Linked DNA regions of Homo sapiens. The protein of the gene in region 2 purifies or fractionates together with the protein of the main gene of each other region. This does not show direct contact. Each region holds a gene or a part of one and is shown on either strand. Other genes may lie near its edges.

Region 1 (7,174 bases), on a different chromosome or scaffold from region 2:
AGGCCCTCCCACCTACTGAAGGACATAGCTGCTGCAGCTCACCCCTCTTTTTCGCACCATCGATTTTCCTTCCTTACTGGCCCACGCTTATTAGCATGCAACCATGCTCTGACCACTCATGTAACAAAAGCTGTGCTTTGACCCGACATTCCCCTTGCTCCGTTTCCCTCCTGCCCTTTCCAGCAGAACTCCTCAACAGAGGGCCCCATATTCATGGGTTCCTCTCCTCCTGTTTGATCTTGAACCCTTTCCAGCCAGACTTTGGTCCTCATCATGCAACAAACTGCCCACGCCCAGGTCATCTGCGACCTCCATGTGGTTAAATCCAAAGGTGAATCCTCATTTCTCCTCTGGTCTGACTTGTCAGCAGCAGTGGGCACAGTCAGCCACTCCCCTCCTTCAAGCTCTGCCTTCACTGGTGGCTGGAGCACCCCCTCACTCTTGGTTCTTCTCTGCCCACCCTGGCCACTCTTGCTCAAACAGGAGGAGAGGAACTGCTTTGGATGGTTCCCCTTGATAGCATCCAGAGCACCCTCCTTCTTCCTCTCACTGTACCCCTCCCCAGGTGATCTCATCCAGGCTCCAGGCTTTAAATACCATTTCCGAGCCAATGGCTCCCCAACTCCCATCTTTAGCTCACTCTCCCCTCACAGCCAGCCTCCTTCCAGCTGCAGCTGCCTGACATCCCCACTGGGCTGTCAACGAGCTTCTCAAAACTCACCTGTCTACACAAATGCTGCTTCTACCTCTCCCCAAGCCTGCTAAAGGGCAGCCTCATTCTTCCAGCAGCTTAGGCTGAGAGACTTGCCGTTAGTCTTAACTTCTCTTCTTGTTCTCACACCCCATATCCAAGCATCAGCAAACCTGAAAGCTCAATCTTCAAAATATATCGAGAACCCAAACATTTCTCACCCTCACGGCCGCCATCACCCCGGGCCAAGCCACCACCGGCTCTACATGGAAACCTACAAGCCTGTCCTGAATGCTCAGCTCGGCCACTGCCCATGCTCAGCATAGCAGCCAAAGGATCTCTATAAACCAGAAGTTGGGCCCTATTGCACTTGAAATTAAATCTGATGGCCCCTCCACAGCCTTCTCGGCCTTTCCTGATCATCCTTCACTCCCAAGCTTGCCTCTTCACCGCATCACCTAACACTCTCCCTGGGCTCACTCCACTCCAGCATACCAGCCTCGGGACCCTGGCTCCTGCTGTCCTGTCCTCCCAGTACACACTTTTCCAAGATTTCTTTTTCATGGCTCTCTCCCTCATGGAGCTTGTCCGGGATCTGTCCAGGCGCCACTCCATCAGAAAGATGCCTCTTTACCACACCATAGAAAACAGCATGCATGCCTCCTACCACTCTGTTGCCCCCACTGTTTTGTTTTCCTTCATAGCATGTATCATCCCTGACATGTCGTAGATTTGCCCACTGGGCCTGTGCCCTCATTAAAGCTCTACGAGAGGGACTTGTTTGTCTCCTAGAACTAGGGCCAGTACCCGGTACAGAGAAGGCTCTCGATAAACACCTTCTGGCTGAATTCAAGCTTGAGTGCATGTGGCAATGACATGTGGGAGGAGATCGGGCTGGAAAGAGGAGCTGGGGTGCGACTGGGAAGGGCCGGCCTTGCTGCTGGGCTAAGGCGTTTGGACTCACCCTGCAGGCAAGATCCTTGGGTGTGCTGGTGCCCTCAGCAAGAAATGAGCCTGACTCATGTGGCCTTACCACCGCCAGCGCCCCCACATCTGTTAACAAGCCACGTCCAGGCTGTGCAGCGGGGCAGGGAGGGAAGCCACCCACCCCATCCCAAGCACCCAGCACCAAAGTCACACCCCATCCATCTGCACATGGCTGAGGGGCATATACTACTGACGTTGCTCATGCCTGCCAATCTGAAACCTCCAATTCACAGAAAAGGAAACTGAGGCTTGGTGAGAGGAGGTGACGTAAGTGGCAGTAGGGAAACCTCTTCTGCCCATGAAGATACAACTGTAACCACACTTGATCATGAAAGACCAAGCAGCCTCCGACATCAGGGTTTACAAAAGGAATCATACCTTTCTAGACCTGAAGTCACGGGGAATTCCTGATTACAACTGGAAGATCAACAGTTGGCTGGGTAACACGTTCATTTATGTCATAAATTGGCATCTTAGCCTAAGACTTTGTGTAGGGAGAGCAAGGGTGAAGTGTATGAAAATATTTGAAGTAAATCACTTTACAGCGTTTTAAAGGCGGAAAGAAGTAAAAGCACGTGCCTCCCAGCCTTGCCAGGATCCACCTTGGGCTGGGTCCTCCAGGTCTCGATCAGGGCCGACCCATTCTGCATCCTCCGCCTGGACCCCTCCAAGGCTTTTGCTGTAACTTGCGCTCTCCTGAGCTGCCTCGCAAGCAGCAACGACCTCTCCCTGGTCTCTCATCAAACTCATCCTCCCAGAAACCGGGTTCCTGCCCTGTACTGTGTTCCCATGGCAACCTGAGCTTACTACCCGCTGCTGGCATCACCCCCTCTCCGCTGCAGCCCCCTGCAGGGCGAGCTTGTCTGATTCGCCTCTGTCCCCAGTGCCCAGCACCGGGCCTGGGACTCAGGGAGCTCTGAAAGGATGGGGAACTAGATTTTCGGGCTCAAAAGAGAAGAACCCAAGGCGGTAGGAAAGGAGAGCAGAGTCCCCACTGCGCCCGCCTGCACTGAACCAGTCAGTCCCAGGGCTCCCGCTGTCCTTGGCTAGTTCTCTACCCTCCAGAGGGCCTCGGTTTCCTCATCTGTAAATCGGGGTCGCCACCTCTCCTGCAGGGCGGTGCAGGGGCCCAGCCCGGATAAGCCACCGAGGGCGCTGGGGAGACCTGCACCAGGTCCCTGGCCTAGGAGGCGGCGGCCTCCCCCCGCCTCTCCGCCCGGGCGCCCCGGACTGCGAGCTGTGCGGTGTGGGGCGCGGGGGTCTGGCTCACCTGGAGGTGACGAGCACCGCCGGGGACTGCATGACGGCGGCGGGGACTCCGGGCGGGGCGCGCAGTCACGGGACCCGGCAGTGCCCGCGTCACCGCGTCCCCGCCCTGCCTCCCGCTGCCCTGGCCTGCCCCCTGGTGGCAGCGGCCGCGCAGTTCGCGCCTGTGGCCAGAGGCGGGGCGGAAGCGCGGCTGGGCGGGTCCCGCACGGTCGCCGTCGGCCTGCGCTGCTCGGAGCTTCCGGAGCACCCAGGCTGAGCCGCGCCCGCCGCAACCACCTAGAAGAAGCCCAGCCTGGCCCTGGCACACGGTGAACCTTAATCGGTGTGTCTGTTTTGCGCTAAAGTTTAGCCGTTAGAGAGACGGGACTCTGCTGTTTCCGCCGCCAGTCCCCATTACAAAACCACTCCCCCTCTGCCCCAAGACCATTTCATTCAACCGATCGGTCAACAAATATTTACCAAGCTGGGGCTCTGTCCAGGCTTCGTGGGGTCTTCTTCAAGCTGCACAGTGAACGCCACGCAGCAGCCCAGTCCCCTTGAGCTTGCTGCCTCCAGCTAGCTCGCCTATCTGGTTCCTACTGCCTGCCCGCTCCATAAATGGCAGGCACTCTCCCGACAGGGGATCTTTAGAGAGGCAGCCTCTGCTGCTTGGCAGAGCCCTGGTGGAGGCCTCCCGGGGCCGGGCCTGCCTGGGATGGCTGCACTTGGGTCCCCAGCTGGAGCAGGGCAACGGGGTCCAGGAGCCAGTTCCCCTCAGAAGGGGAACGTACAGACATGCAGACCCTAACAGACCCACTCATTTTAGATTCACCTCTCCATGGGGTGAGGAACAGAGAGATCGTATCACCTGCCAACGTAGCCCAGGGAAAGAAAAGCTGAGTCTGCAAACAGGGCCAGCAGAAGGTGCAAACTGCTGCCCCTGTTCTGTTACTCCCTCCACCCAGAGCCCCAGTGACAAAAAGAAAGAGAAGCTGGGCTTAACTATACCAGAATTCACGGCAGGGCGATGTCAGCCATGTTTCCTGAGCCTATCAACCACCGCCACCAGCATCACCAACAATATCTACCAGTTTTTACAGATTTTAGTGAAGAAATCCTACAGTAAAAGATTTTGAAAAATGACTTTCCCCAATGTATCTCTTGAATAAATACGGACATTGATATGCCTTATTATTTGTCTCAGATTTGTTTATAGGCAAGATGAGCAATCATGAATGAAGTATGACAATGAATGAAAGTTCTGAGGGAGACCCTTGAAGGCTGCAGTGAAGAGCTGGGATGATGGCGGGAACCCCTGTCTGCTCTGCTGCTCATCGGCCTGTCCGTCTGCAGGGCCGTGTTCATGGCTGCAAATGGTCCTCCGTGTTTTGTTTAAATTGGCATGCCCTACTTTAGAGAAAGGGAGTTCAGGGTCTGGACAGAAAGCAGTATAGGCTTCAGCATTCCAGGAGTCTGAGTGTAGTGCCAGGCAGTCGAGCAGTCACCATTGCACTCACATTTATCCAACAGACAGAAACACAGTGAATAAGACACTTTAGATGCCTTCAGTGGACTTCTTTGCCCTCCTACATGGGGAGTGGGTGGGGGTCTGGAAAGGCTTTCTAAAGGAGCTGAAGTCCAAGGGAAAACCTGAAGAAATATGGATAGAATAGATTAGAAGGAATGTCACGTGCAAAGCCCTAGCGACAGGATAGGAACACCAGGGAACAGGGGGAAGAGGCCAGCAGGAGCCAGGGTGTGGACAGCCTAGTGCACCAAGGCCAGGGCTTTGCCTGATCCTGAGGCCAACACAGCGCCATCAGAGGGTCAGGGACATAGGAGTGGCTGGGCCAGCTAGGGCGTGGGCAGGGTTTTGGAGCATGTTGAAGGTATGAAGATGAGCTGGACTGCAGAACAATCCAGACAAGAGACAATGGTCCCATGAACTAGGGTGATGGCCACCCAGGTGGAGAAGAGGGGACGGGTAAGAGGGCCTTAGGAGAAGGAGTTGGTCAAGACTTGGGAATCCAATGGGTGTGGGCGGGAAGAGATAAGATACCACTATGGTTTGGCTCTTGTGAGTGGCTGGACATTGGTATCATTCTCTGTGGCAGGGCACCTGGAGAAGGAGCATATTTTTGGTAGGATGATGGGTTCTGTTTCAGACAGGCAGTGTTTGAAGGGCTGGACCTATTGATGCGATTGGGTTTATGGCCCTGGGCCTCAGGAAGCCGACCTGGGCTGGAGACTGACATAGGAGTCATGGGTAAAAAGGAGGCTGTTGAGCCTGAGAGTTGGGGTGAGCCCACCAAGGATGGTCTACAATCCAGAGATATGCAGCGGTGTTGGGGGGCTGCAGAGAAGGGGACTCTCCATCATTGTGGGAGCTGGTAGCATGTCTGTCACCAATGCCTTGTAAGCAAATGAGAGGGCCTCACCTGTGCCCCTGGGGTTGTGAAGTGTGCACCTCAGGAAGACTCGGCCCACCTGTCAAGAATGCAACTGGTTTCCCATGAAAGAACGACCCCATTCCCAACAGCAATCCCATTTTCTGCCTCTGTGGGTCCCACGTGCCCCTCTATGGCTCCAGCGCGTAATTGTATACAATGCATGGAATGTGGGATCTAAATCTGATATTTTCTGCTTCCTGTTTAATTCAAGGAGCCCCTTCCATGGCTGAAGCTGCGGTAACACAAACCACATTGCAAAGGATTTTCTATTTCTCTCTTTCTCACTGCCCTGGGAGGAACACTCCAGGCCTCAGTTTCCACCCAGGAAGTCACTGGGCCTCAGGACACTGTGGTCACTGAGAGACACCCGCAGCCTGCAGGGGGTGCTCTGAACTCTGGCTGAGCCATGCACCAACGTTTCCCATGGTGGCTCGGGTCTTCTGGGACCTTATAATTTGTCTCTGTTCCCTAATGTGATACTTTAGAGCTCCAGGGTCTGGGCACATCCACATGGAGCAGGGCCACCACCTTGCTTGTCACTCAGCAAACACTCATAGGTACAGCTCCAGGCCTGTTATCTCCCCAGGCCTGGGGGCTACAGAGCCTTATCCTGTGGGGCTCACAGCCCACTGCAGGGGCTCACAGGCCACTCTAGGACAGCTGGAGATTTCAACAAGGATGCACGCCTAGGGTGCTATGGTGCACAGAGGAGGGCACATAACTAACTCAGCCTAGGGTTGGGCATACAAAGAATTCTGCCAGGAGGAGGTGATGGCAGACCTGGGTTGTAAAAAGTAGGTATTATTTTTTTGAGACTTGATTTTCTCACTGGTGAAATGCACGTAACAGAAACCTTTAAATCATAACATTGCTTGAATTACATGAGGTAAAATGAGACTGAAACAAGATGAAATGTATGGCAGGCATTGGTGATGAGCTAACCGGAAGCCATTCACAACCCCCTTCTTCCTGGTTTTTATTACCATAGAGGCTGGAGAAGTAAAACACATGTCCCATTTCAGTTACAAGGGGCCATGTGACATAACTGACCACATATACTTAAGTCCCTGTGGAGGATTTATCTTGCTAGGAGAAAACTCTTCGCTCCTTCCTTGTCTTCTACCTGGGAAGGGGATACAGTGTTGGAGACACAGCAGCCATCATGGGAGCAGGAGGCACAGACATGAGTTTGGAGTCTACCATGTTAGGGATGAACAAGCCTGGGGAGCTGATGGCATATGAGCTTGCATACACGCCCTGGACTTTTTCTACAAAGTTCTCCTTGCATAAATGCCTAAATCACTCTAAGTGGGGGTTTTCTGCAGTGGATTTCCTGTTGGTGTAGTTGTAAAGTACTTACATAATGCCTGACATAAAAACTGCTCCATAGGGGATGCAGGGATGACTGAGGAGGAGGAAGAAAAGAGGTAAAATGTGTACTAGGAAGGCAGCTTGTCTTTTTTTTTTTTTTTTTTTTTTTTTGAGACAGGGTCTCATTCTGTCGCAGTGGCATGATCACAGCTCACTGTAGCCTCAACCTCCTTGGGCTTAGGTGATCCTCCCACCTCAGCCTCCCAAGTAGCTGGGATCACAGGTGTGTGCCACCATGCCCAGCTAATTTTTGTGTTTTTTGTAGAGACAGGGTTTCCCTATGTTGCCCAGACTGGCCTTGAACTCCTGGGCTCGAGCAATCTGCCCTGCTGAGCCTCCCAAAGTGCTAGGATTACAGGTGTGAGCCACCATGCTCAGCCTAGTACGTCTTGATAGAACCAGAGCGTATCTGAGGAGCTGGTGAGAA
Region 2 (7,838 bases):
TCCAGACTGGGAGCTGGATGGATGATGACTCCCACCACCAGCCTAGACAGAGGCCAATGAAGAGGAACACGCTAGGGGGTTCAGCAGCCCCGAACTGCTAATGTTCACTCACCTGGGTGAGAGCTGTGACCCTGTTCCCCATGTCTGGGAGAATGGGAGGCTCATCGCCCACTTGAAAGTCAAAGTAGACGGTCTTGTGAGAGAAGGTGGAAAACTCATTACTGAAGCAAAACTGATAAACGCCCTTGACTTCAGCCCGGTACGTGAAGCTGTCGTACTGCTTCTTCGTTTCTCTGTAGATGGTGTTCCCCTGGGGGTCCTCTACATAGCAGTCAACATCGTAGTGGCCTCCAGTGATGACCTGACAACCATAAAAAAATTGCTGTTATCAAAGGAGCAACCACCACTTACCAAATGCCAACCAGACACTGTGATCAGACTCTACAAACATTTCTGTCACTTCATCTTCAAAACTTTCTAAGGCAGGTGCTACGCCACTTCTCATTTTACTAAGGCTGAGCAAGGTTAAATAAATTGGCTGTGGTCACACTGCTTGAAAGTGAAAGGGCTAAGATTTGAATCTATGCCTGCCTGACTCCCAAGTTTGCTCTGCAGGGTTTCAATGAGCCTAATCCTTTCCATTTTACAGAAGAAGAAACTGAGGTTCCAAGGTTAAGTAAATTCCCTAAGGTTACACAAGAGAAAGTGGTGAGATGAGATCTGCCTTGAGAGCTTTTGGTTCCAGTGCCTAAACATTTACCTATTGCACTATTCTGAAGCATGAATGAACATACCCCAGGATAACTGCTCTTCCTGAGATGGTGCTGATAAAGCTTCCCGAAATCAAGAGCAAGATGAGGAGGGATGTCCAAGAAACTATTCCAATGCAACTAGATGCCACCGATTCTTTATCTTTGTTCAATACTTAACACAAGACACACAGCAAATCACTGATTTAGGGCACTGCCACTCATTAGCCATGTGACCCTAGACAAGTTACTTTATTCTCTGAGGATATGTCTTTATCCATGAAGTGAGGAGTCAATAAGTTATCACACCTAAAGTGTTTAGCACGGTGTCCAACATAAATTTAGCAAGGGCCCCAAAAGTGCCAGCCAATTACTGGACAATCGTCAGACTGCAAACTAACCCCCTGGGGTTGCAGTGGAGATGTGGGATCTGATTTGGGGGCCACCCTAGAGCATGCATGCTGCACCTCCTGCTTCTCCGTTCCAATAACAGACAGGTGTTCCCCCTCCCCCCACCAGCAAGGGTCATTCTTGGCTTGCTGAATGGGTCAAGTAGCTATTAACAATATATTATTAATGACTGAATGCAAGGAGAAGAAAAATATTGATCGAAGTATTCATGGAATTTCTGAGTGTCAGCGGTGGAAGAGTCTTTGGGAATCATTTAGTTCAAACTCTCCTTGTAACATAAGAAAAATAAGACCCACATAAAGCAAAATCTCACAGGTAGGCAATGGCTATAACCAAGATCCATCAAAGGACACGGTCAATGGCCTCCATCTGCTTCCAAATTTAAATGGCCTCTTTGTCCGGACAAAAGTTACTAGTCCTGCTCAGCAAGCTTTGCAAAAAGCAGTGAGTATCCTGTTGCTAAGTGTGTTTAAACCCAGGCTGGACACACTTTGACAAGGGATTTCCGCCCTGGCAGTGACCAGATGACATCTGAGGTCCCTGCAACCACAGAATTATCATTCTTTTTGTCATTGCACCTAGGTTGCCCATGTTAACCCAGTCACAATTTGCATGTTGTCCACAAAGACCTGAAAGTGGACAAATCAGTGACTGAGACTACCACATAGAAGTTGTCTCCAAGCGCAAGCTTCCTTCAGTGCCTCTAACCACAGAGGAACTGGTCAAATAGCTTGCCCCCATTCCTGCTGCCCGTGGCCCCTCATTTCTGAAGTGCCTATCAGCATGCGTCCACAAGCAGATAGCTGTCTGAGTATGATGCCCACTTGGCCCCCAACCCTAGACCTGCTCACTAAATATCGGGGCAGACTACTCACTCAAGACCTGCTCCTGTCACCTGTGGGCCACGGGATCTCTCAAAGGAGACAGGAATACAGGAACTGAGCTTTTCTAAGCCATATGGCAAGAGCCAAGTCTTGCAGCCACACCGCTCCTTGTAAACACCGCCAGGCCTCAATGGCTGCACTGATCCCTCCTTTCCAAAGTGCCCATTCTCACTTCTGCTGCCCTCACCTCACTCCAACTTTAAACGCTGGAGAGGGGAGGAATAAACTAAAACTATGAGCCCACTTCCTCTTGCTGCCATTTTTCAGTACTCGAAGGCACAAGGTGGTCTAAGAGACTGGGGTTAGAGAGCCTGTGTCCAGCCGATCAGAACTGCCGTTGGTTAGTGTCTCGGGGGCCTGCGGATATCTCTTTGGCCAGCTCCCCAGGCTGCGGGATCCGCCCTGGCGTCCCCATCCCGGGCTCGCACCTGCGGCGCTGACTACCTCCTCGCTGGCCAGGCTCGTCTCGGGTGGGCCCTGATGACCCAAACCTTCCTCCTCACGGGGAAGTCAACTGGTCTCCGGGGACTCCCACCCCATGCAGCCTCCCTGTAGCCTGTGGCTAATTCGAGCGCCTCCAGTCAGGGGCTAGCCAGTGTCCAGGTGAGACCTGGGAGTGGAGGGAGAAGGGAGCGCTGCCGGGCGCCCGGCCTCACCTGGTAATCCAGGGAGAACTTCACGCCCTGCTCCACCTCCTCGTGGAAGCACTGCTTGGCGTTGTCCGGCAGCTCGAAGGTGAGCTCGGCCCCGCAGGGCTGCTCGGCCCGGCGCAGGAGCAGCAGCAGAAGCAGCACGGAGGCGGAGCGCGGGACAGTGCTGCCCATGATGCTCTCGGTCCCGTCTCGAGGGCCGCGGCTCGGGCGCTGCGCCCCCGGCGGGCTGGGGCGACGACTACCGACCGGGTCCTAGGAGGATGTAAGGGGATAGACGTGGCACCAGCGGAGCTCTGCGCTTCCGGGAGGGCCGGCGGCTCAGTGCGCAGCCGCGCGCTCAAAGTGGGCCCGGGCACCTTCCGCCCGCTGCGCGTGCGCGCTGGCCGCGCTGCGCCAGGGGACACGCCCCCCCCACCCCCCCGCAACGCCTCTCCCGGCTCGGAGGGTGGGTCTCCGCGGAGGGGAGGTGGGGCTCCACCTAGCGCGCCCCTACCCAGAAGAGGGAGAAGCCCTCCCCGCTGTTCTGCGCGCTCCCGGACCCGCAGGGCTGAGCATCCCCCCAGGTCGACCCAGGTCCACCCTCCAGCTGCTGCAGCACGAAGCACGTGGGATTTTACTCCCTCTATAAGGCTCCGCTTTTGACAGGCTCTGTAACTTCAGTCTCACACTTCCCTCGAGAACCAGTCTCCTTGTCTTGAAATGGGTGTGCCCAAACCTAACATCCACAGTAGTTAGGGAGCTAGGTGAAAGATAAGGGAACGCTGGGAACCCGATTAACACTCCTTTCTTCATTCCCATACCCTTCCCAAGGTGAAAGAGTGTGCGAAGGGGGTGGGGAGTGGGGAGAGTAAGTAAAGACCCATCATTACACCTGCTCTGGGAAAAACACGAGCGTGCTCACACACAAACGATCTCATGAAAATCCAAGTAAAGTCTCGCAGCGACTTCAGGTATATTTTGGCTGTCAGGCTCGTTGAAAATTCTTTTTGCACAAAACTGTCATTTTTGCACTTTGACTTCTTAAAAGCTCTGAAAGCAGATAAATTGGTTTACTGTCTTACCCATGACCACTGACTTAAGATTCTTTTGTATAATCGTAACTATAGGTATAGTTTTATATTCACTGTGATCCAATAAACAAAGAGAAAAGACGTAGATTGTGATGTCGATACTCAATAAATAACTTATTCAGGAGAGCATTACTAGACGTGGTATATCTTGACTTCAGGAAAGAATGTTACTGCCCATATAGATTTCCGCTGGCCACATTCACTATGGATGAACACGCTAATGTGTGAAAGCAATCTGTAGGCTTGGAAATAACATGCATGCATAACATAGTTAATAATATTGACTGGCTCAGTGACAGGCATGGAAGAGGTGTTTAGTAGTGTCCCTTAAGCTTCCTTCCCTGGCACGGTCCTATTTCACGTTTTTTTTTTTTTTAGGAACTGATAGAAAACATGGAAGTAATAATCATCTGATCTAGATGAACTAAGTGGAGAAATAAATGACAGATATAAAACCACAATTGGCCGGGAGTGGTGGCTCACGCCTGTAATCCCAGCACTTTGGGAGGCTGAGGCGGGTGGATCACGAGGTCAAGAGATCGAGATCATCCTGGCCAATGTGGTGAAACCCCTTCTCGACTAAAAATACAAAAATTAGCTGGGGGTGGTGGTGCGTGCCTGTAGTCCCAGCTACTCGGGAGGCTGAGGCAGGGAGGCAGGGGTATTGCTTGAACCTGGGAGGTGGAGTTTGCAACCTGGCGACAGAGCAAGACTGCGTCTCAAAAAAACAAAACAAACAAACAAAAAAAAAACACGATTGCCCTGGCACAGGTGGAGTGCTCTGCTAAGACTAACAAAAAGAAATTTCGGGCTGGGCACCATAGCTCATGCCTGTATCCCAGTATTTGGGGAGGCTGAGGCAGGAGGATTGTTTGAAGCCAGGAGTTCGAATCTAGCCTGGGCAACATAGTGAAACCTCGTTTCTACAAAAACAAACAAACAAAAATTAACCAGGCATGGTGGTGTGGGTCTGTAGTCCCAGCTACTTGGGATGCTGAGGTGGGAGGATTGCTTGACACCAGGTGTCTGAGGCTACAGTGAACTGTGATTGCACTACTGCACTCCAGCATGGATGACAAAGGGAGACCCCATCTCTAAAAATCAAAATAAATTCCTCCGGATTAAATGTTAAGTCTTACATTTAAGTTCCAAGAAAACACCTGCATAAGTTCAGGGGAGGAGCTGACATTGAAGAAGCTCTAGTCAGAGCATGCAGGCTGTTGGCTGGGACACCTCGGTTCTCCTCCAAGCATCCTCTTACATCTAATAGGCTAGATTACTTCCTTATATGGCAGGTTCAGGGCAGCATCCCAAGAGGAACTAGGCAGAAGGAGCAAGGCCCCTGAGACCTAAGCTTCAGACCTTTTCCAGTATGACTTTCTCCACATTCTGTTGACCAAAGCAAGTTCAAAGGCCAGCCCAGATTCAAGGAGGTGGAAAAATGGAATCTACCTCTGGATTTGAGGAGTTGCAAAGTCACATTGCAAAGGAGGGTCATACTGGGATGGAAGGAATTATGGCTGTTAAGCCATCTTCTATAGTATCCAGACTCACTCAGCTTGTCAATGGCTAAGCCAGAAAGTGAACCCAGATCTGCTTAATTCTGAAGACTACCAGCTTCCCACTAAACACACTGCCTCTACCCATACCTCAGGGAACACTTGTCCTACATGTTCCATAGGGCAAACCTTGGACCAAAGCATGAATCTGACACTGAGGCACATTTCAGCTCACACAATAAATGATTTTCTGGAACCAGAGATTTCCAAAAATAGAATGGACAAGGATAGTACATTTTTCATACCCGAAAATATTCGAACAGATGCAGGTGAACAACCAACCACTTAGCAACAACAGAGATGATTCATGAGCCTGGGTGACAGATAATAGTGGTGTATGACCTCTACGGTTCCTTCCAACCTTGATATTGCATGATATATGGCAAATATTGCGTGATATATGGTACTAAAGGTAGGATAACTTGAAAGAAAAACCAAAAATGTTTTCTATCCACTTTAGTCCTGGGGTGACTTCTGTAAAGTCCTTTTAAAACAGTAAATAAAAGAAACACACACATAAAAATAGTAAATAATAAATATTAAAACAGTAAATAAAAATGAGGATCTTAACAGATGCAGGAAAAAAAGCATGTGACAAATTCAACATCCATTCATGATAAAAACTCTTAGCAAAACAGAAATAATAGACAACTTCCTTAATGTCATAAAATGTAACAAATTTAGAGCAGACATCATGATTAATGATAAACATGTCTTTTCCTTCAAATTTGGGAATAAGACATAAATGCCTGCTATCACAACTGCTATTTAACATTGTCCCAGAAATTCTAGCAGGAAAGGTTAGGCAAGAAAAAGAAATAAAAGGACAAGAATTGGATATATAAACATCCAAATAGTGCTTATATCTAAGGGGAAGGAAAATGCAGAAGTCCAGAAGGGGCACCCAAGAGAGACTCATGAATGTTCACATTCTGACTTTCATTAACTGAACACTTAGGTTTTACTTCTCTAAGTATGTACAGATGCTCCTCGGCTTACAATGGGGTTATGTCTGAATAAACCTATCATGAATTGAAAACATCGTAAGTTACGTGTGTTATGATGAGATGGGCAGTATAAGGTGGACCCATCTGTGCCCTAAAGCAGAACTTTATCATTGCTTCATGCAACAGGAGCACTCCCTAGCATGCTATTAGTATGTTGAAACAAAATCAAAGTTTATCCATGCCTCATGCAGGTAATTGATGGTGAAGGAAAAAAGCAACACAATCGCTGTGTGGATTGACTAAAGCAAATGGAAACTTTGCAAACCGCTTAACGTTGCCATGGAGCTATAACCAATACCAGCTTTTCCCTGAACAAACCAGTCAGAGACAGGTGACACACACTGCCCTCCTGAGACTCACAAACTTCCCCAGAACAACTGTTTCTGTGGCTGTCAAGCATTTAACTATCCTTCCTATGGGTAAATCCCAAACTAGGTGAGAAACCAGCCTCCCTCTCATCACAGAGCAAAAGAGGGGCAGATAGTCCCTCTCCCTCTGCTCCCGGGTCCCAAGGTATGTGGGCATGGGATCCAGGCTCTGCCAACTGGGTGCCCTTGTATCTGACTCGGGGGGGCGGGTGTCTAGAGAGGTAGAAGCAGAGAGTATAATGGTGGTTACCAGGGGCTAGGGGGTGGGGGGCTTGGGGAAATGGCCAATGATTACAAAATTTCAGTTAGATAAGAGGAATAAATTCAAGAGATCTATTGTACAACATGGCATCTATGGTTAATAATGTAGTCTATACTTGAAAATCACTGAGAGTACCTTTTAAGTGTTCTTGCCACAAAAAAAATGATATATGCAGTAATATATATGTTAATTACCTCAATGTAGCCTTTCTACAATGTATGCATATTTTAAAACATTATGTTGTATACTTCAAATATACATAATTTTTATGTGAATTAAACAAACAAATTTAAATTTGAAAAAGAAGAAGAATGCTTCAATCTTTAAGCTTTGGACAGGAAAATATTGTGACTAAATGACTACAGAATGATCTTTAAAAATTGAAAAGCTTTTTGCAATTCACACATTATGTTGGATTCATGGAAATGACTCATATTCTCCCTTGAGTGTGAGGTAAAGAAACATTAATATCTTAAATATAGGAAGAGAATAATCCATGTGCCCACTCACCATGCATGAATTATATTTTCCTAGTGCTAAAAATTCAAACTTCTTCTTACCCCATTGGGTCTTTGTTTCTATATAAATAAGTATAATTTATTCTGCTTTTAAAAAGAGAAAAAGAAAAAAACATCATATAACTTATTATCTTTGCTGTAACATGGTGGAATGGAAAGATAATGAAATTCAAGACCCAAAACCCTGGCATTAATGTTTTGACATTCTGTCCTTGTCTGGGAGTCCACGTCTGAAACTTTAAAATAGAGGTTGAGGTTGGGGATTGGGTGAGTTGATGCCAAAGGTTTTCTTCTTCCAATTATCAAGACTTTTAATAATTTCAAACAGTGAGCTTGGGCTTCTTTTCTTCAATTTAA

What was found. The genes of interacting proteins can lie anywhere in the genome.
Region 1: the proteins of TMED3 (region 2) and HS1BP3 purify together in Homo sapiens (affinity purification with mass spectrometry; 3 studies listed by BioGRID and IntAct, with this or other methods). This does not show direct contact.

The regions. Positions count from the first base shown.
Region 1 is NC_000002.12:20,648,084-20,655,257, forward strand, and holds the start of HS1BP3 (HCLS1-binding protein 3), read right to left. Parts: upstream 3,016-7,174; 5' UTR 2,981-3,015; coding exon 2,949-2,980; intron 1-2,948. UniProt on the Homo sapiens protein: May be a modulator of IL-2 signaling.
Region 2 is NC_000015.10:79,306,280-79,314,117, reverse strand, and holds the start of TMED3 (transmembrane emp24 domain-containing protein 3 isoform a precursor), read right to left. Parts: upstream 3,007-7,838; 5' UTR 2,869-3,006; coding exon 2,701-2,868; intron 362-2,700; coding exon 113-361; intron 1-112.